3 separate regions of the Homo sapiens genome follow, and regions 1 and 3 are each reported to be linked to region 2. The links are microRNA targets in miRTarBase. Many come from high-throughput screens and were not tested one by one. Region 2 holds a microRNA gene; each other region holds the end of a gene's coding sequence.

Region 1 (7,118 bases), not on the chromosome of region 2:
TACTACAGCCCAACCCGGGCGGACACCACCACCATTCTGGCTGCCGGGGCTGGAGTGACCATAGGATTCTGGATCAACCATTTCTTCCAGCTTGTATCCAAGCCCGCTGAATCTCTCCCTGTTATTCAGAACATCCCACCACTCACCACCTACATGTTAGTTTTGGGTCTGACCAAATTTGCAGTGGGAATTGTGTTGATCCTCTTGGTTCGTCAGCTTGTACAAAATCTCTCACTGCAAGTATTATACTCATGGTTCAAGGTGGTCACCAGGAACAAGGAGGCCAGGCGGAGACTGGAGATTGAAGTGCCTTACAAGTTTGTTACCTACACATCTGTTGGCATCTGCGCTACAACCTTTGTGCCGATGCTTCACAGGTTTCTGGGATTACCCTGAGTCTCAAACAGTTGGAAACTAGCCCACTGGACATGAAAGCCAAGACATAGGAAAGTTATTGGTAGGCAAATCTTGACAACTTATTTTTCTTTAACAACAACAAAAAGTCATACGGCTGTCTTGCTACTACCAGATAAATGATGCTGCTGTGTGAAAGGAAGAACTGTCTCATAGCGGTCATTGGTCGTCCGTGGTGGTTGGTTGTGCTACAGTTGAACCCAGGCTAAAGACCATAATCCGGATCTTTAAAGGCACACACCGCGCCCCCCCCCCCCCCGCCCGGCCCCTGCTCCTCTCGCTGTTGCACGGGCTTTGGATCTAGTCATGGGCTGGCAGGAATTGTGGCCTGGCTTAGGAATAGCTATGAGCCCCACTGGGTTCTGGAGAGCCAGTAGAGATGGGGTGATCTGGGAGGCTGGAGGTAGAGCCTTTCTTTTCCGTTACAACCTTGCCTAGCATGGAGTTATTTCTAAAATGGGAACTTTGGTCTAGGAGAAGGGGTGGCACCATATGAAACGGCATTCCTTGGACAGGGTGACTTCCTTATCGTTTATTTGGTGATTTTTTGTTTTGTTTTGTTTGAGACAGGATCTTGCTCTGTTTCCCAGGCTGTATTACAGTGGCACAATCTCAGCTCACTGCAAACTCTGCCTCCCGGGCTCAAGCAATCCTCCTGCCTGAGCCAACTGAGTAGCTGGGACTGTAAGCATAGACCACCATGTGCCCAGCTAATTTTTGTAGAGACAGGGTTTCTCCATGTTGCCCAGGTACGTCTGAAACTCCTGGGCTTAAGTGATCCACCCACCTCAGCCTCCCAAAGTGCTGGGATTATAGGCATGAGCCACTGTGCCCGGCCTCCTCCTTGTTATGATCAAATTAGACTGTGCCTGGTTGGGTGGTAAGATCACTCTGAAAGAAAGCTCACTGTGAAGAGATGAAAGGTGGAGGCAGAGCTGTGAGGTCATGGGGAAAAGCCTGCTTTCCTTATAAGTCCTGCTGTTCATGTTGGAATAAGGATCTGCTCTTCCTTGTTTCCATGCATTTTGCAGGATTCCAGGTACCATTACCACACTCTTCTGACCCATGAAACCAACTGGCTGCTCACACATCACCAAACAGGTTGGGGGTTAGCCTTCAGCACAGGTGGATACATCTGGGATTCACTGAGATTCCTGCCCTCTCCTGCTTCCTAGTGGTTTGGGACAGGCCCTCTGCCCATCGTCAGCAGTTTTTTGCTTTCATACAAACCTGGAAGGCACTGGCATCTGCCTAGGAAAGTGGATCTGTGAAGAACAGATGAACTCAATCCTTTCTGGAGTCTGACAAAGAAGGGATAGGCTTCCTTGACATTGCCTGTCCTGACAAGGCCTCCCTGACATTACTCCTCCAATTTCACAGTTACCTTCTGTAAATCTATTTTCTCATCTACTGAATAGAATCAGGCGCCCTTTTTGTCTTCCCACCTCTTATCTCTTGGCAATTTTAAGGGGAATTAATGCAAGAACAACTTTAGTGTCTCTTGGGAAAACAAGCCAACCAAATACAAAACCCATTAAGCCTACTAGGGTGAGTCCTCTTAACATGGGAAGGCGATGATTATGCAAACACCGGAGTTCCCTCCTCTTCAGTTCCTAAGAATAAAGAACAGGTATCAAGAACTTTCTTTAAAGTTAGTGTAACTATAGTTAACAAAGTATCCATTGAAGTTTAGTGCCTGTAGGACTGAGCCAGTGCTTTATCAACCCAACACATCATCACCATGTGCATACTCTAGAAAAAAAAATAGCTTCCTTAAAAGTTACAGAGGCTCTTAACGTGTTAAAACCGAAAAATCACATTTTTCTTGATTTCAAATATGTTCTACGGCCTTACTGTTGGGATGATATTTAGTATGTAACTTAGCATTCCAATTTCTCAAGAATTTTTAGGCCGGGTGCGGTGGCTCATGCCTGTAATCCCAGCACTTTGGGAGGCCGAGGTGGGCGGACCACGAGGTCAGGAGATCGAGACCATCCTGGCTAACACGGTACCCCGTCTCTACTGAAAATACAAAAAAATTAGCCGGACGTGGTGGAGGGCGCCTGTAGTCCCAGCTACTCAGGAGGCTGAGGCAGGAGAATGGCGTGAACCCGGTGAGCGGAGCTTGCAGTGAGCCGAGATTGCGCCACTGCACTCCAGCCTGGGCGACAGAGCGAGACTCTCTCAAAAAAAAAAAAAAAGAATTTTTAGCAAAACATCCTGTTTTTACTTAAAATTCTTCTCATATTTATTATAGTTAGAAGGCAAAGATCAAGATGACCTGCCGTTTGACTGCTTTTACATCAAACTCTGCCCAGTATTTGCAGCACAACTCAGGGGAAGGGCCTTAGCTTACAGGTACTCCCAGCCTTCATCTGCCCCTGCAGAGCAGTGGCTGTCAGCCGGATGCGGCACTTTTCTGTATTTTCATCCACACAGCTGCCCAGCCAGAGTTCGCAACACTGGATATTTACACCAAATAATTGTGGTTGACTTGTCTGAAGCCAGCTGACAAAAGGATCAGCTTTTCCCACTTGTATTTTTTAAAAAGAGGGATTGTGATCATTGTCACAGAGTGGGTGCTGGCCTCTCATATATATGATATATATATATCATTTTATATATATATATATATCATATACATAATTTTTACTGCTGTCTCTAGTTTTAAGTCCCAACAATAGGAAGGCCGATCAGCTATATTGATATATTTAAGGCTGTACTTAACTAATTTGGGCTGAGGATGAATATATCAGCCACAGCACATTAAAGAATGAGCCAAGGATTTGTCATGGTTGGTCACTTTTTAAAGTATTTGATTACTGCAACTGGAGAATGAAAAGTGTATATTGGTGACGCCAACCTCAGTTTCTGAGCACTCCTGCTCTGTGGTGAGAATCAGACAAAAATTCATCGGGGTGAAAAAGGCATTACCTGATTCACACCCTTGTCTTGCTAGCCCTCTTCCATTCATTTCTCACACAGCACTTTGCTCTGTTAAATCCTCTCTCTGTCTCAGACCATTGCTTGCCCCTTCAAAGGGTATGGTTCAGGCTCCTTTCAAGACATTTGGAGTTTCTCTCTGGGGAAAGAGAGCCCCCTACTGGTTTGGCTTCAGTCTAGGTCCACCATCCCTCTCGATCTGGCATCTTGGAGATTAATTTAAAAGGCAAGCTCACCACAATGTAAGCCTATGGTCTGGCCAACCTTGCTTTTGGGAACTGTGACACCAAAGCCCCCAGGACTATCTGCCTCTCCAGGAGCCAGATAGAATGACATGCCTTTTTCCTAATTGTCCACATTCCACCCCCAACCCACTGCCACTGTGGGCCAAGCCATCCATCTTGCAATCTTCATCTAAAACAGCTCTCATTTCATGCCAGTTTTGCTCAAACCTGCACCGTCACAAGATATTCAGAAGATGAAAACGTAGAAGACACCCCTGAATTAAAAACACTTACATAGCAGTGGCTGGAATTACTCCAAAACGTGCCCAGTGATCGCACTGTAACATGGGATTTTCTCACCCAAATAGGCAACTCATGCTTCCTGAGTGTAATCAAAGCATGTGGTGTTTTGGGGCCATATGCACCAGGTTTCTATTTTAGAAACCTTCAGCTGTCTTGCTTATGTACTGTATGTAAATTTATTCTTTTTAAAAATCACTTTTATTTGATTTTGACTTATTAAATGCTTTAAAAGCCAGTGTTCTGTTTCCTTGCATTTTTTTCTTAACGTAGATCTTTTTCTCTGAATTCATTGGACCTGAGTTGAAAAGGGGACAAAAATAAGAGGCAGGCTACATAATTCTCTGTTCTTGTCATAATCCAATCATGTGCAAATGTTGGAGAGCCTTGGAGGACCCACAGGTGTGGTAACAAGAAAGAAGTGGCATGTTGGCATCCTTAAATCCCCTCCTCTACTCCATGATACTAAAGAACCTCCTTTTACTTTATATGGAGTTAAATGTCACTATGTTTTGAAAGGTAAATGTTGTAAGTTTTGCTAGTTAAGGTAAGTAAAAGGTTTTTAGAGATGCGTTCTCTATCTGCTGAACCAAATAAACATAACCGTCATTCAAATTCACAGTGTATCACTGCAATGATGTGGTCTGCCTTTAAGCATCCCAAATTTGCTATTTGAGATGGTACATACAGTTGACACTGCCCCTTATTTGCAAGGGCAGACCTAGGACTCTATTTGTACTTTGAGCAGGACATATGAGATGTAAAGCTCCAACCTATCCTGTGCAGTTTTCGCAGGACAGAGAAGACACAGGGGCAGAGAATTACAATTCAGGAGCCAAATGGTTAAGGCTGTAGGGAAGAGAAAACAACGACATGGGAACTGGGAGGAGGGGTAGACTGCATGAGCGAGGTTTAGAGAACAGATGGGGTTTGCACAGGGAATGTGACGGGAAGTAGGTAGGAGATGGTACTCCATGGCTAGAGAACAGCGTGTCTGAGGCACTTCCCAAACACCTCCAGCTCTTACAAGAAAAAAAACCAGACCACGTTGGTGATCGTAAGAATAACAGTGGTGGTGGTGGTGGTGAAATAAAGGATGAGCATAGGGCTGTGACACCGCAAAATCAAACCACACGAACAAGAAGTGTGAGAAGGCCCTCCCAGAGGGGGTGACGTCCAGAGGTGACTTCACAGACTCCTTTCATCACTCCTCATTCAAATACAGTTGCCCCTTGAACAACTCGGAGCTCAGGGGTGCCAACCTCCTATGCAGTAAAAATGCATATAACTTATGACTCCCCCAAAACTTAACTACTAATAGTCTGCTGTCAATGGGAAGCCTTTCTGATAGCACAATCAGTAGATTACCACATATCTTATGTTATAGGCATTATATATTGTATTCTTACAATAAAGTAAACTGGAGAAAAGAAAATGTTAAGAAAATTGTAAGGAAAATACATTTACCCTTCATTAAGTGGAAGGGGATCATCGCAAAAGTCTTCATCCTCATCTTCATGTTGAGGAGGCTGAGGAGGAGGAAGAGAGGGAAGAGGAGGGGTTGTTCTTACTGTGTCAGGGGTGGCAGAGGCAGGAGAAAATCCACATACCACTGAATGTGTACAGTTCAAACCCATCTTGTCCAAGGGTTAACTGTACTCACCAGTCAGCCCGAGCACCTTCCCCGTCTGCCATCTCTGCACGCACAGCGTCATTCCCATCCTTCTTGTTCCTCTCTTGGCAGACATGACCAACAGCTGGGACCTCCTTCTGTGTCCTTCATGCCCACTCCCTTCCCCCGTCTTCTCTTTGCTCAGTTCCCTGAACTAGTCATGTGAAACTTCATTTTCAAAATATTTTACCGTGATCCTGGCTCTTCAGAGAACTTCAAAATGCTTCAAAATGCTCCAAGTCTTTCTTTAATGATTGTGAATGAAGCCCTCATCCTCTAGTAAGAAGCTACCCAAGAGCCAAGTGGAATAGCAACATACACATATCTCATTTGAGACAAGAGATGTTTTTTCCTCGAAGCTGCTTGTGTTTTGATTTTTTTAAACTTGAATTTTAACTGCACGTATGGGTTTGCCATTAGAATTCCAGTTAAAATTTGGATTCTTCATTTCTGTGAACATAAGGCTTTAATGGGTGACTCTGTGCACACCATGCATCCATTGTTTTCTTAAAATGAGACACACCTGTAGTACAGACTTGGATATTTACAGAATGCACATTAAGAAGAATCAGAGTTAAATGTAGGCCATGAAGAGAATGCTAAATTCTTAAAACTGTAGCCACGTGAGACAGGGAGCTATACAAAGCCAAAAATAATTCTTCTTTTTCCAAGCCTGTCTATATGGCATGCAAAAAAACCAAGAAAAGTAAGGATGTAGCTAGGAGTTCCACTGTAATGCTTCTTTAACACACGCACTCAACACATCTGCTGGCCTTGCTCTCTGTATGGCAAGCCAGATTCTGCCCAATGCAGGTGTTCAAATGTCAATGCCTCTTTAATATACACAAAGATGGCCTCAGATCATTAGGGGTGAGCCAGGGTGAAAAGTGGGTCCTGCCTTAATGCCCATGCCTGCAAGAGTCTTATAATCTACCTGTATCCATGAGTGCAGATAGGAGTGAAGCCTCTTGGGCTTCCAGTCTGCAATGTCTCTGTCACGTGGAAACCTGATGGGTGCCACTGTGAGTGGGGCCAATTATGCACAGTGCACACTAAACACAGATCATTTTAGCCTTCCTAACTGGCCACTAATAAAAAGACGCTGAAGTATCCTGAAGATCAAAGAGAGATTTCCACCATGCCTCAATACAAACCCCAGTCCGGGCCTCTGCATGACAGGTGTTGTGCCTAGTGTTTTACACAAGTCATCTCACCTACATGATTTGCTTAAGGGGCACCTCTCTGTCTGGCTCTCTTGTCTCATCTGCCCCAACGTCACCCAAGTGCTCCTTGTTTAAATGTTCTGCCCAAGACACACAGCCAAAAAATCTCTAATCCCACCTATCTCCACTGGGGCTTTTTCTCTGACCTTTCCAGCACGAAATGTGACTGTTTATTCCGTGTGTCACAACTGGTTTCTTGTCAGCCCTAAGTAGTTGGTTATTGTAGGGACAGGCATATTTTATTCCTGACAAAAAGCTGTGCCATGTGGAAATCAGAACATTTCTTTTGCTATCAGGCTTGATATCAACCAGGCACACTTTCTCCACATCTTCACCTTCCCA
Region 2 (7,118 bases):
GGGAGGGATGTGGAAGGAAGATGACCCCAGGTGGCCAGGAGCAGGTGAGGACCAGTGACGGCCCTTCCTAACTTGTGTGGCCATTCTTGCAGTTGAAGGAGTCGCTTAAAGAAGTCCAGCTGGAGAGAGATCAATATGCTGAACAAATAAAAGGAGAGAGGGCCCAGTGGCAGCAGAGGATGAGGAAAATGTCGCAGGAGGTGAGATCTGACCCTTCAGCCTCCCGCCCCACCCCCCCCCCACCAACAACTTAAGATAGGTCACTGGATCTTTCTGGGCCTCTTTAAAATGGGAATAGTGCAGCCAGAGGTGGTCCTGGGTCTGGGCTTTGTGGAGGTGGGGGCAGAGAGGGAGATGGGAGCCTGTCCAGCCACCAGCCCCTCTCTCCAGGGCCCTTTCCCCCTGTGCTTTGGGCAGGTTTGCACATTGAAGGAGGAGAAGAAGCATGATACGCATCGGGTAGAGGAGCTGGAGAGGAGCTTGTCCAGACTCAAAAACCAGATGGGTAAGATGGGGCTGGCATGACCTGGGAGCAGGACTGGCATCAGAGGGCTGTGGGGGTGGCTTAGAGTGCCCCAGGGAGGTGGGTGGATGGCAGGGCTTTGAGGCAGAGGGAAAGAGGTCTGTGCCAGGAGACAAGTCTTGTCATCTCCCTGAGCCTCAGTGTCCCCATGAGCAAAGAGGGCCCGTTGTCAGCCACCCGCAGTGCTCTCTATCTGAAAGTGGTTTGGAAGACTGGCTACCATCCGGGTGCGAGGGATCGTTAGCAGTGAAGCCAAGTTTGGGAGCCTGAGAGGAGCTGTGCGCCAACAGGAGGGTGTTTTGTTGTTTTTTCTGTTTTGATTTTTGTTTTGAGAATCCAGAGGCCCTTATGATCTGCTTCCTTTCTCAGCTGAGCCACTGCCCCCGGATGCCCCAGCAGTGTCCTCTGAGGTGGAGCTGCAAGACCTGAGGAAGGAGCTGGAGAGAGTGGCAGGAGAGCTCCAGGCTCAGGTGGAAAACAATCAGTGCATCAGTCTCCTGAACCGTGGGCAAAAGGAGAGGCTTCGCGAGCAGGAGGAGAGGCTTCAGGAGCAGCAGGAGAGGCTTCGGGAACGGGAGAAGAGGCTTCAGCAGCTGGCCGAGCCACAGAGCGACTTGGAGGAGCTGGTGGGTTGCCCCACCTGGGGAGCCTGCCCTCCTCCCTAGCCCTCCAGGCCTTTGTTTCCCCACCTGTAAAATGGGGCAGTGTAGCCCTCACATGAAATATTACTTCCAAAGGCACCTGTGAGCCAGAGCTTTGCTCTGGTGGCTGTGGGAGAGAGGAGAGTATTTTTCTAACTTGGCTCCACCCTTCCCGGTGCCATGGGAGGCAGACACCAAGTTCTGGGGTCTCCAGCTGCAGTGGGTGGCTGCTGATTGCTTCTCTCTGTCCAGAAGCACGAGAACAAGAGCGCACTGCAGTTGGAGCAGCAAGTAAAGGAGCTGCAGGAGAAGCTGGGCCAGGTGATGGAGACGCTCACCTCGGCCGAGAAGGAGCCAGAGGCAGCAGTCCCAGCCTCAGGGACTGGGGGCGAGTCTGTGAGTGGGGAGACCCTCCGGGCCCTGCAGGAAGTCATGGAGAAGCTGGAGGGGAGTGAGTCCTAGCATGGGCCAAGAAGGGCAGGGCTGGGGCAGGTCGCTGCTGAGATGTGACCCCATTATTTTGGCTCCAGAGCGGCCTTATGGACCTCCTGGAGGAGAAGGCGGACCTGAGGGAGCATGTGGAGAAACTGGAACTTGGATTCATCCAGTACCGGAGAGAGAGATGCCATCAGTGAGTGGGAGGCCAGGGCACGGCAGGGGGAGCTGCAGGGCTATGGGAGGGGCCCCAGCGTCTGAGCCCTGTCCTCCCGCAGGAAAGTACATCGCCTTCTAACAGAGCCAGGGGACAGTGCCAAAGATGCGTCACCGGGAGGAGGCCATCATCAGGCTGGCCCAGGACAAGGAGGAGAGGAAGGTAGGGTGTGCAACATCCCTGTGGGGGTGGGGGTGGGGTGGGGGTGTGGGTGGGGTGGGCATGAGGGTGGGCGCCAGCAGCGGCCTGACAGCTGAGCACCCGTCCCTTCAGGTGAAGCTGCTGGAGCTGCAGGAGATGGTGTTGCGGCTTGTGGCAGCTACAGCGAGGGGCACGGCAAATTCCTGGCCGCTGCCCGGAACCCTGCTGCTGAACCCAGTCCAGGAGCCCCAGCCCCCCAGGAGCTCGGGGCTGCCGACAAGCATGGTGGTGAGTAGAGCCCCCAGGCGGGGTGAGCAGGCAGGAGCGGGGGGCGGCTAGCACTCCACTCAGATCCCCGCCTCCCTCTCTCCAAAGATCTTTGTGAGGCGAGCCTCACCAACAGCGTGGAGCCTGCACAAGGAGAAGCCAGGGAGGGTTCTTCCCAGGACAACCCTACTGCACAGCCAGTCGTGCAGCTCCTTGGTGAGATGCAGGACCACCAGGAGCACCCAGGCTTGGGCAGCAACTGCTGTGTGCCATGCTTTTGCTGGGCTTGGCTGCCGAGAAGAAGGAGATAAACACCACCATCATCAAAGAGCTGCTCAAGAAATTTTTAAAAACGAAACAAAGTTATGGGGTTAATCTCCTACACAATTCATTTACTTCATTTGAATGTTAGAGCTACTCATGATTATTTGTGTTTCTAATTTATAGTTTAAGTTTATTTGTAAAAAGTTAAAAGAGAGTGGGTCTCTGTGGCTCTCACTGATGTTCACTCTGGCATCCTTCAGCATTTTTCTTTTTTCATTTCATAATTGTAGGTCATTAGCATGCATATCGAGTTTGCCCTTACGTGGTGGGAGTTCAAACACACAAAGACCCACTCTTTGCACAAAACTGTTCTCGCTGGTTTGGAATAGGCTCCCGTGCTTTTCTAATGTTATTGCAGCATGGATGTCCATTACAGAATTCAGATAAAATTTGCTAATGTTCTGCTATGATGTTTGATCTCATCTTAATCACAGTGAGCTCTTCTATAGCTCAATATGCGGTTTGCCCTCAAGTGTGCACTGTTTATTACTTTGTAATATGCCACTGTGAGTACTGACATTTAGAGCTGTTTAAAGGCCGAGAACTGGAAACAGCCTTTCCTCCATTTTCTGTGTATTGGTGATGGGAGTGATAACCTTTTGGGGGAGCTTTCTAAATCTCACAGAAGAGGAAAGTGGCCTGCTCTGGCAGGTATGTGCAGGATACAGTGTGTTTCATCTGTTCCGGTGCCAAGAATGAGCAGTGTACTGTGGCAGTTCCCTTTGGATTTGTATGTGCTCTGGGCTCATGAAGATATTGCATCGTGAGCTGCAGCAGTTGCACTCTTTTTCAGTGACCTAAAAAGGGCTTATTTCCGAGGAATGAAAGGCTGCCATCATTGGCTGTGGGTGTGAAAAACCTTTCCTAGCTTAGAGCATTTGTATCTACAATACATTTTAAAGTCAGAGTTCGTGTTCCCTGTTTTAATCACATGACTACCTGTCCCAGTACACGAAAGGGCGCTGGTTGGCATTCTTCTTAATGTATTTAGTGAAGATCATAAGAAATCCTTTAAGAGTTTAAATGTCTCTGAAACAGGCATACAGGCTCTAGTCAAGAATGAATTAGAGTGAAGGAAAGCTGTGTGACACCTGGCATTCCTCTCTGTTCATGGAGCTTCTTTGAGGCTTGAAGTTTGATTTTACTATCTAGACCTCTCTGGCTAATACCTATTCTTCAACCACCTCGGTTACTCTGACATAGGAATTTACTTCTTTTCCTTGAGTGGAAAACACTTTAGAAAGTAATAACAAACATTATTATAAACTAATATATGTGAGAGTACTTAGTTGAAACAAAAAGGAATTTTAGTAGACAGTATTATATTATCTTTGAAAATCAAGGAGAAGTTTATGCAACTTAAAATGTTTACACACTGTGGTGCAATCTACTGTTTGTGAATGTCTGTATTATCAGGAAACATGTCTATACGATCGCAGAGTTGTATTTCCTCACAAACTTCTTTACGAAGAGTGAAATACGTTTTTGTACCTCTCATTTTCAGTCAGGGACATACTTTGTGCAATATTTCTGTGATTGTGCCTATGCATGATGAATGAATGCATTTCAATCATACATTGCCTAAATCATAACTTGATGATGCTTGGGAAAGAATCAACAGTTAAAACTTCATGAAGTTCTAATGTCTGTGTTCCAAAACACATCACATTATTAGGTTGTAGGGAGATATGTAGGTGTGCTCCCTGGGGTGGGGAGTTTTCTAGTTACTAGACCATCTCCATTTTTAGCACTTGGCAGCCTCATGATCCTTTTATAAATGTGAGATTAACAGGAGAGCAGCAATACGATTTTGCCAATGGAATAACAGATTTGCCGGCATTCACTGAAAGAGGGCAGATATTGGGTCCTTGTAACTTCAACTGACTCTTCCAAATTGTATGAATTTATCAATGTATTACACAAATCCAGTTTCAGAATGATAAAAAATGTTAGACCAAATAATGCGGCTAATTAACAGTCGTATGATTTCTAGCCCATGGGTTTAAAACTGTATCTTAAAGAGTCATTTTAAAATAATATAAATATTAAAAAATGTAACTGCTATCTTAATGTTCTGAAATAAAACATTTTAAAATATAAATCCTGTAGTTTAAAAGGAAGAAATGGTGGGAAGGAAAAGTAGAGAAAGAAATGCCAATTCCAGGCCAAAGCGTTATTTGCCAAGTTTTCTTAGAATGAATTTTACCAATGTATGAGTTCTTGTTAACAGAATGTGTAACGGAAATACTGAAAGACTTTTGCTTAAAGTGGCATTATTGACTGCTGATGTGATGCTACTGTAATGCAATAAATTTTTAAATTGTTGCAAAGTGCTGTTTTTGCCTTAAAATTTTATTTTGCGTGTCTTGAAAACTATAGTATTAAAAGTATTGATATTGTGCAAATACTGGGCATGCTTGGCATGAGATAATCTGTTTCATTGTTACAAAAATGTAGTATAACTATGCAAGTGTTTATTGAAAGAACACAACATAAAAAAGGTATGGGATTAAAAAAGTTTTGGGGTGAAAAAGTTATCGGATAAAAATGTAAAAAAGTTGTGGCAAAAAGTAGAAAAAAGTTTTCTGAAAAGTTATCATGGAGCACGGTGGCTCAAGCCTGTAATCCCAGCACTTTGGGAGGCCGAGGTGGGCAGATCACCTGAGGTCAGGAGTTCGAGACCAGCCTGGCCAACAGAGTGAAACTCCGTCTCTACTAAAAATACAAAAATTAGCTGGGTGTGGTGGTGGGTGCCTGTAATTCCAGCTACTCAGGAGGCCGAGGCAGGAGAATTGCTTGAACCTGGGAGGTGGAGGTTGCAATGAGTCAAGAGTGCCACTGCACTCCAGCCTGGGTGACAAAAGCAAAAACTCCGTCTCAAAAAAGAAAAAAAAAAGTAAAGGAGTAAAGAATGGCTACTCCAAAGACAAAGCAGCGGCATCAGCTGCTCAACTGATTATACTTAGTTACTTCTTGATTATATGCTAAAAAGAAAAGTGGGGTACAATGATCTTCCAACCAGGAGTTTCAACATGTGGTCTCTGGGCAAGATGAAACAGCAGACAGTTGGCTCTGAGTAACAGAAAAGATAGAAAAGAGAAAGGAGAAAAGGGGAGAAAAGCATTGTCTGTGGCAGGGTACATAGCTCCGGGAGGCCAGAGAAAGACCCACCCATTGCAGCGACGCTGAATCAAAAGTTCAGGCACCTGCTTTTCAGTAATGAAGGGAGCTCTTCCAACAGTCCCATCAGCTCTCATCTTTCCCACTTTAGGGAGAAAAATGCTCCCACATCTGGTGATCCTGTACATGCCTAATCCTGTCACCCACAGCCATCAGCAAACAGTGCAAGGCAGATTAATCCAAAGAGAATAGCAGATAACATCCCATAATTCCAAATCCATTTTTAACCAAGAGGGACTTTACTGAGAGGGACCTCTAACCTGTAACCCCCTGAATCTTAGGAAGGGCTCTAACCTTCCTAAGTTGGGCCTCTAACCCAAGTTTGGTCAAGTGTCCTTGCCTTTTATTAAGGAGGCCTTTAACTCTGTCTTAGTAGGGACTCTAACCCTCCTAAGTTGGGCCTCTAACCCAATTCCATCCTTTACCCACGTTAAATGTACCCCTCCTCTTACTCAAAGTCGGCCAATTGGTATTGCTGTTTTCTTTGGGTCAGAGGTTTCCTCAATATTGTCCCTTCGTGGTTCAACCAGAAGACATTACCAGAAAGGGATCCTGATCCAGACCCCAAGAGAGGGCTTTTGGATCTCACCCAAGCAAGAATTCAGGGTGAGTCCATAGACTAAAGTGAAAGCAAGTTTATTAAGAAAGTAAAGGAATGAAGAATGGCTACTCCATAGACAGAGCAGCAGCATGGGCTGCTCAACTGATTATACTTATAGTTACTTCTTGATTATATGTTAAACAAGGGGTGGATTATAAGTTTTCTGGGGAAGAGGTGGGCAATTTGTGGAAATGAGGGTTCCTCCCGTTTTTAGACCATATAGGATAACTTCCTGACATTGCCATGGCATCTGTAAACTGTCATGTGCTGGTGAGTGTCTCTTTTAGCATGCTAATCCATTGTAATTAGTGTATAATGAGCAGTGAGGACAACCAGAGGTCACTTTTGTTGCCACCTTGGTTTTGGTGGGTTTTGTCCATCTTCTTTACCATACCCTTTTGTCAACAAGGTCTTTGTGACGTGTACCTTATGCTGACCTTCTATCTCATCCTGTGACCAAGAATACCTATCCACCTGGGAATGCAGCCCAGTAGTTGTTAGCCTTATTTTACCCAGCCCCTATTCAAGATGGAGTCACTCTGGTTCAAACTCCTCTGATAATACAATGAAGTAACAACCAGGGAAGGAGTGGCAAGAAGCAAGGACATTGCAGGACACACAAAAGATGAGGAAAACAAATGATAAAAGAATAGAGGTTATTGATGAAAAGGTCAAACTCTATAAAATATTTGAAGAGATTTATTCTGAGCCAGATATGAGTGACCAATGGCCCATGAGACAGCCGCAGTAGATCTAGAGAACATGTGCCCAGGATAGTTGGGCTACAGC
Region 3 (7,118 bases), not on the chromosome of region 2:
CCAGCCTGGGTAACAGAGCAAGACTCCGTCCAGAAAGAAAAGAAAGAAAAAGAAAGAAGGAAGGAAGGAAGGAAGAGGGGAAGGGAGGGGAGGCTGGAGGGAGGGAGGGAAAGAAAAGAAAGAAAAAGAAAGAAAGAAAGAAAGAAAGAAAGAAAGAAAGAAAGAAAGAAAGAAAGAAAGAAAGAAAGAAGGAAGGAAAGAAAGAAAAGAAAGAGAAAGGAAGGAAGGAAGGAGGAAAGAAAGAAAGAAAGAGAAGAAAGAAGAAAGAAAGGAAAGAAGGAAAGAAAGGAAAGAGAAAGAAAGAAAGAAAGAAAAAGGAAGGAAGGAAAAGAAAGGAAGGAAGGGAGGGAGGGAGGGAAGAAAGGAAGGAAAGAAGGGGAGAGAAAGAGAGAAAGAATGAAAGAGAAGAAAGAGAAAGAAAAAGAAAGAAAGAAGAGAAAGGGAAGAAAGGGAAGAAAGGGAAGGAAGGGAAGGAAGGACAGAAGAAAGGAAGGAAGGAAAAGACAAGACTCCAGCCTCGGTGACAGAGCGAGACTCCATCAAAAAAAAGAAAGAAAGAAAAGGAAAGAAAACGGTGGGGTAGGAAAACAGGCGTCAGTCTCAGCCTAGGGAGATGGAGCTTCTGCAAAGGGCAAAGGGGGCCTCTTCCTTCAGAGCTTGGGGTATAAATGCAGCTCCTGGGAGGCAAGACACAGATGCAGTGCCCAAGACCCAGGGGGAGTGGCTGGTGGCCTCCCCTCCCCCCGATTCAATCCTGGGAAAAGTCAGTGTCTGCATGCACAGCCTAACCAAAAGCATCCTGTCTCCCTTTCAGGTTTGGGAAGCAATTGAATTTCCAGGAAATATCCATCCATGAATTATGCCAGCAAGAATGAAGCACAGATGAAGGCAGCGCCCCTCACTTGCTCTGGCTTCAGAAGTGAACTATGGGCTGCTGGGAGCAACTAGTGACTTTGATTCCCATGGAGGGGACTGTGTTTCTTTAAGGATGCTGACCTGGAGGCCACCGAGAGGCTGGGGCTGGGGCTGACCACAACATCCTTCCTGTGGTTGCTGGAGCTGCTGGCAGGGCCAGGCAAGGCCAGAGTGCTAGGGGCAGGGTGAAGGCTTCAGCTCACTGTTGTAGTGACGTTTTGTGTAGATCTTTATAAGCTTTTGAGAATGTGAAATAGCACCATCAAAATATAATGTCAGAGGATGCTCACACCAGTGGAATGTGGGGGGAATATTTTTATTTTTAACGATTTGCCAGCTCTCTCCCTTGGCCCGTGCTCTGGTTTGGAAGCCCAGAAATGGCCATGACAGGTCCAGGCAGGATGTCCCAGCCACAGGCAAGGCAGTGGAATGCAGGGCATCCTGAAGGCCAATCCTGATCTCCCAGACCACATCTTTCACCATCAGCCTCTTGGCCAGGATGACCTGGAGGCAGTGCCTGAACAGCTGTGTCTCCAGGGAGCCATCTGCCCTGCAGGGTCTAAGGACATCATAGCACCCAGAGAACAGTGGGCAGCTCCCAGGGGCTCTGCTGAGAGCTTGAGAGAGGGCAGTGTGGGTACCTTGGGCCTCACAACCTTCACCCAGCCACTTGGGAGGATTTGGGCTGACACTCCCCACTTCCACAGGGAAAAACATAGCTGCCTGGGGGTCTTGTCTCCATGGGCCCTCTCCATGACAGATCCAAGGGAAGGTGGGCAGCCCTCAAGGAGGTTCTTGAAGAACTGCCCCCTGGGCCAGGGGGTTCCAACCCAGCTGCAGCCAGGGAGGGGCAGCGGAGGGTGAGCAGGAGTGGCACCTGGAAATGAAGCTAACTGGATAAAAGTGCTGGTCCACTGCTCCTGGTGTCTCTGTCCTATAAATACAGGACCTGATGACCCTGGAGGGGAGCAGAGTGGTAATATAGTATAATTGGCTTGATTTTCTTTTTCGTTTTTTAGGACTGGGTAACAGGATCATGCAGGAGAAGATTAAACCATTACATTTCTAAGCTAGGCAGGCCCATCGAGCTCCTCTAATCCACACCCCTATTTTATATAATTAGAAGGCCAGAGTGAAGGGGAGATTCAGCTTGCTGTTCTATGCCACTGACAAATGTCCCCTCTTCAGGGGGCTTCCCCTGACCACTCCATCTCGAGTCACCCCCTAGTTATCCCCTATCCCATTACCATTTTTTCTGCATCACTATCTGACATGTTATCCTTCCGAACTTGCCTATTTTTGAAATACCTGCAACCCCCCATAATACTAAGAGCTCCAATGCAACAGGGACCTGTTTGTCTTGCTCATTGCTGTGTCCCAAGCACAGAGTCGCTGTTCAGTAAACGGTCCTTCAGTTCATGAGTAGACGAGCCAGAACCCAGATGTGTTTCTCAGGCTGGTGTCACTCTGACTTCCCCCAGGCTCTGACTGAATCCCATCGGGACAGGGGCCAGCATCTCTGGTCCACTCCTGGCCCTCACAGTTCAATGGAACATAGTAAGCCCTCTGTAAAGTCTGTAGAACCAGAGGAAGACCAAATTCTGATTCTAGAAGCCTCCCCAAGAGTCCATGGAACACACATGTAACTGCACACACACACACACATACACACACACACTCTCAAGAGCCCTGAAGATGGCATGGCATTTGCCCCAGTCCCCTATGTAGCAGCAGCAGTATTCTTGGCATGCCTTAGTGCCCTCAGCCCTCTAGAGCTGGGTAGAGTCTACTAACTTTTATTTTCTTTTATTTTTACTTTCTTTTATTTATTTTTTGAGATGGGGGGGGTCTCTGTCAGCCAGGCTGGGGTGCAGTGGTGCGACCATACCTCACTAGTCAGCCTCCAACTCCTGGGCTCAAGCCATACTCAGCCTCCAACTCCTGGGCTCAAGCGATCCTCTCACCTCAGCCTCCAAAGTAGCTGGAACTACAGGCATGCACCACCACACCTAGCTCGTTTTAAATTTTTTGTAGAGACAGGGTCTCACTGTGTGGCTCAGGATGGTCTCAAATTCCTGGCCTTAAGCGATGCTCCCGCCTTGGCCTCCCAAAGTGCTGGGATTGCAGGCATGAGCCACATACCCTGCCAGAGTCTTTCAACATTAGATCTCCCACTGAGACATCATCTCCTGGATCCAAAGGCCTTACTGACAGAGATGTGTGGCATGGCCCCATGCGGGGTGTGAACCAGCCTCCTGGGGCAATCACTAAGACAGGAAAGGAAATGAAGACAGAAAAACACACAACATGGGATCTGGGGCCACTGGTGTCCAGAGCATATGCAAAGTGTGTGCAGCAACTGGCCAAGGGGCCTTTTGCTCCGAACATCCCCTAATGGAAGCCCAGCCTTTGATATGGACACATGCTTGACAGCAGTGCACCTTCCCAGAGTTCACTGGCCTCTGCAAATGGGAGAAATTGATGCAATGTTTTGAAAAGACTTTCCAGCAATCCACCTGGGATCAGTGGAGCCACGGATGACAAGAAGTATCTGAGTTCACTCTAGGCCAAAATGTGGGATTTTCAAAAACATTTTCTGGAAAGCAGCCTAGCCAGTGACTCCAGCCCAGTCCCTGCTAGAATTCAACTGGCTCTACCAATCCCTTGACAAGAAGTAGGGTGGACGGAGGTTGGAGGAGGGAAGTTAAAATGTAGCTTGCCCAGATCTTGCTAAAAAGGAGTTTTAGAAAGCAGATAGAGAAATTGTGGTATACTGAATACATCATTTTAATTCTTCACCACCAGTATAGAATTACACATCCAAAGCTTTGTCATGGCCCACTTTGACTAATGTGGTGTTGGCAAACCTGATCCAGGCAGAGGCTTGAATTGTGCTCTCATGGTTGAGCTTGCCTCTTGCTCCAGTGATCTCTCTTGGGATGAACATGCCATGGGTAGCTGCTGCCCCTTCAGCCTGGAACATCCAGAGAGCAGACCTGAGCCCAGTCTACAGCCTGGAGCAGAGCCTCCCAGGCAAGCCCAGCCCAGATCAGCTGAACTATGGCTCACCCAAAGACCTATTGGCATGAGAATATATGCTGCTTGTCATAAACCACTGAGGTTTAGAGTGGTTTGTTATATAGCATTAATTGTAGCAATAGCAGACTGGCACAGAAATTGGAACCCAGAGACAGTATATGACTGGATCTAGGATTTCTCAGTGCAGAGTTCATTGTCTCTCCATGCAGCCTGTGGAAAGGCACTGAGAGCATCCTGTATATGGAAAAGCAGGACCACCACCTACAGCCATGATGAAGCAACAAGGACCTGATTTACCCTCCTGCTTTAAATGACTAAAAATGAGACAAAATCCTCTATACAAACCAATGGTTTTCAGCCATTGGATAACAAGCAATATAGGGTATGATTGATCCGCAAGAGAAGGGAAACAAGTGAGGGGAGCCCTATGATTGCTCCAACTTACTGCCTGCAGTGAGTTTTCAGGCTGCAGCCCAGGAAGGGGGAACCAGGTAGAGCCCAGTGGTTTCCCTGAGTTGAGGAAATGGAGCTGGGAATCCAGGGAGGACAAAGTGGCTTAAATTTGCAAGGCAGAGTCCCAGGGATGAGAGAGAGAGAAGGAGAGAGAGAGGAGAAAAAAGAGAGAGAAAGAGAGAGAGCATGCTCTGGAGATCTTCAGAGGGTTACCCTTGAGTCTTCAGCTAACTACCGATCAACATCTGCATGTGAAGAAATTACCCAAGGCAGGGGAAAGAACCACCAGGAGGAAGCAGGTGGAATAATTTCCTGAGATAACACTGTGTTGGGAAGAGTTCATGTTTCCAACAGCCAGAGTGGAGAAACCTCCCAAAACAGTCATTGTATAGAGACACATAAGGTACTGCCTCAGAAGTGGGGCCAAATTAGTCCTAGATGATAGATTGCTCTGGTCCCACCTAACAAAGCTTAAAAAGCCAGCCCCAAAGGAGTCAAATTGTTTCCAGTAAGTTTCCAAGTAACTTCAATGAGTCCCAAAACAAAGCTTCAAAATATCTAAAGGAATATGAAAAACAAACCAAAAAGAAACCAGCATCCAACAATATAGAATCCACAATGTCTGGTGTCCATTAAAAAATAATCAGGCATGCAAAGAAGCAGGAAAATATGGGCCATGAGAGGAGAAAAAACCATCAATAGAAATAGAGGCCGGGTGTGGTGGCTCACTCCTATAATCCCAGCACTTTGGGAGGCCGAGGCAGGAGGATCACCTGAGGTCAGGAGTTCAAGAACAGCCTGTTCAACATGGGGAAACCCCGTCTCTACTAAAAATACAAAAAATAGCCGGGCATGGTGTTGCGTACCTGTAATCCCAGCTACTCAGAGGCTGAGGCAGGAGAATTGCTTGAGCCCAGGAGGCAGAGGTTACAGTGAGCCGAAATTGTGCCATTGCACTCCAGCTTGGGCAACAAGAGTGAAACTCTGTCTCAAAAAAAAAAAAAAGAAAAAACAAATAGAAACAGCCCCAGGCATGGCACAGTTGATAGAGTAAATAGACAGAAACATTTTTTAAAATGCAATGGGTGTGTGTTTCAAATCTAGGCAGAAAAAATGCTCCTTGTAATTCCTTAAACATAAGCATGTCTCATTCATCTGGTCATTGTTTTGACAAGGATGTGCCATCCATTGTGCTAAGTTCTGAGGAGTCAGAGGTGACAGAGACAGAGAAAGTGCCAGCATTCTTGGAACCTTCTAACGAAGGAGAGGGACAAGCCAGGCATGGTGGCTCACGCCTGTAATCCCAACACTTTGGGAGACTGAGGCTGGCGGATCACGAGGTCAGGAGTTTGAGACCAACCTGGCCAACATGGCGAAACCCCATCGCTACTAAAAATACAAAAATTAGCTGGGTGTGGTGGTGCGCACCTGTAATCCCAGCTACTCTGGAGGCTGAGGCAGGACAATCACTTGAACCCTGGAGGCAGAGTTTGCAGTGAGCTGAGATCGTGCCACTGCACTCCAACCTGGGCAACAAGAGCGAGACTCCTTCTCTGAAAAAAAAAAAAAGAGAGGGACAATAAACAAGTAAGCAAGACAATCTGATTAAGAAGGAGTTGGGGTTAGCTGGGCATGGTAGCAAGCGCCTGTAGTCTCAGCTACTCGGGAGGCTGAGGTGGGAGGATCCTTGAACCCAGGAGGTTAAGGCTGCAGTGAGCTGTGATCACACCACTGCACTCCAGCCTGGATGACAGAGCAAGACCCTGTCTCAGAAAAAGAAGAAGGAGTTGGGGGTGGGGTAGGATGGGCTTGGACTCACTATCAAGGTGGGTGGGAGTGTGAGAACCCGGCAAGGTGCAAAGAGAGAAGCAGGGAAGGGAAGCTTAGGACAATGATGGCAGGTTGGGTATTGGGTGATGGGAAGAGGCAAAGGACGTGGAGCTTGGCAAAAAGGGGACTTGTGGGGATTTGGGCCATGTGAGCATGTGGGGGAGACAGTGTTCCTTCCATAACACGTGTCCAGGGACTGCCAGGGCTCCGAGGCAGAGCAGGTGTAGAGAGGTTGGCTGTGAATGTTGGATGTTGAAAACATATGTGTCAAATGTGGGAGGAAAAAGCAGTGTTTCCTTGAATACAAGCTCCTCCTCACCTTGCGAAAAGTGGCCTCTGAGTGTAGCCCTGAATGCATCTCCCAAGGAATAGGAGGAAGCAGCAACCTTTTCAGAGTTAACTGCTTTATTTGGGTTTTCCATGGCCTCGTGCCAGCCAGCAGGGCTGAGCCAGTTTCACCCACACTGAGAGGGAACTCAGCAAAGAGCAAGCAGCATGCCAGCTGGTACTCTTCCCTCTCCATTCACTCAGCTCCTGATCTCAGGAGGGCAGCCCCTCCCCAGGCCAGCACCCCTCCCCTTCTGGCCCCAGGTGTGGGATGTTGTTGTTTTCTTTTCTCCGAAACATCTCCTGGGTTTGTCTTTTCCATCACTGTCTTTAGACTGAGGCAAGCAGTCCCCATGCCTTCAGCCCCATGTTTTGGGGGTAACCTGTGCTTTGACATGCTTTGCTAAAAACTTTCTAAGTCTCCCTCTGGTGCTGGGACCAGCCATGACCAACAACGTCATCCATGCAGGCCACCCCTAACATAGTCCAGGCCTCATGTGGGTCTCAGTTCCCTTTTCTTCTTTCAGGAAGTTCTCCAGTGCATGCATAGGGTT

Evidence for each region. The annotated mature microRNA hsa-miR-1233-3p reads UGAGCCCUGUCCUCCCGCAG and lies in region 2 at 1,858-1,877, shown strand. An mRNA with a match to its seed (bases 2 to 7 or 8) in the 3' UTR can be bound and repressed. Matches are read on the target gene's strand: a 7mer-m8 pairs with bases 2 to 8, a 7mer-A1 pairs with bases 2 to 7 and ends in A, and an 8mer does both.
Region 1: miRTarBase lists SGPP2 as a target of hsa-miR-1233-3p. Seed matches in the 3' UTR shown: 7mer-A1 at 1,053-1,059.
Region 3: the mRNA of KIF6 is a reported target of hsa-miR-1233-3p. Seed matches in the 3' UTR shown: 7mer-A1 at 2,828-2,834, 7mer-A1 at 2,859-2,865 and 7mer-m8 at 6,439-6,445.

Annotation. Positions count from the first base shown.
Region 1 is chr2:222,558,503-222,565,620 of GRCh38, forward strand. SGPP2 (sphingosine-1-phosphate phosphatase 2) reads left to right here. Exons shown (of 5, transcript NM_152386.4): 5 at 1-4,119. The coding sequence ends at 396. Among named protein-coding and RNA genes, the nearest start is that of FARSB, 94 kb to the right of the region's middle.
Region 2 is chr15:34,376,828-34,383,945 of GRCh38, reverse strand. MIR1233-1 (microRNA 1233-1) reads left to right here and starts at 1,796; the gene lies at 1,796-1,877. It overlaps GOLGA8A (golgin A8 family member A), which reads left to right. Exons shown (of 25, transcript NM_181077.5): 18 at 93-200; 19 at 418-505; 20 at 893-1,149; 21 at 1,417-1,560; 22 at 1,695-1,795; 23 at 1,878-1,978; 24 at 2,090-2,245; 25 at 2,333-4,878. The coding sequence ends at 2,535.
Region 3 is chr6:39,330,245-39,337,362 of GRCh38, reverse strand. KIF6 (kinesin family member 6) reads left to right here. Exons shown (of 23, transcript NM_145027.6): 23 at 815-7,118. The coding sequence ends at 831. The region is part of intron 1 of LOC105375047 (a long non-coding RNA gene); the gene reads right to left. Among named protein-coding and RNA genes, the nearest start is that of KCNK16, 11 kb to the right of the region's middle. RefSeq lists an enhancer at 1,121-1,200.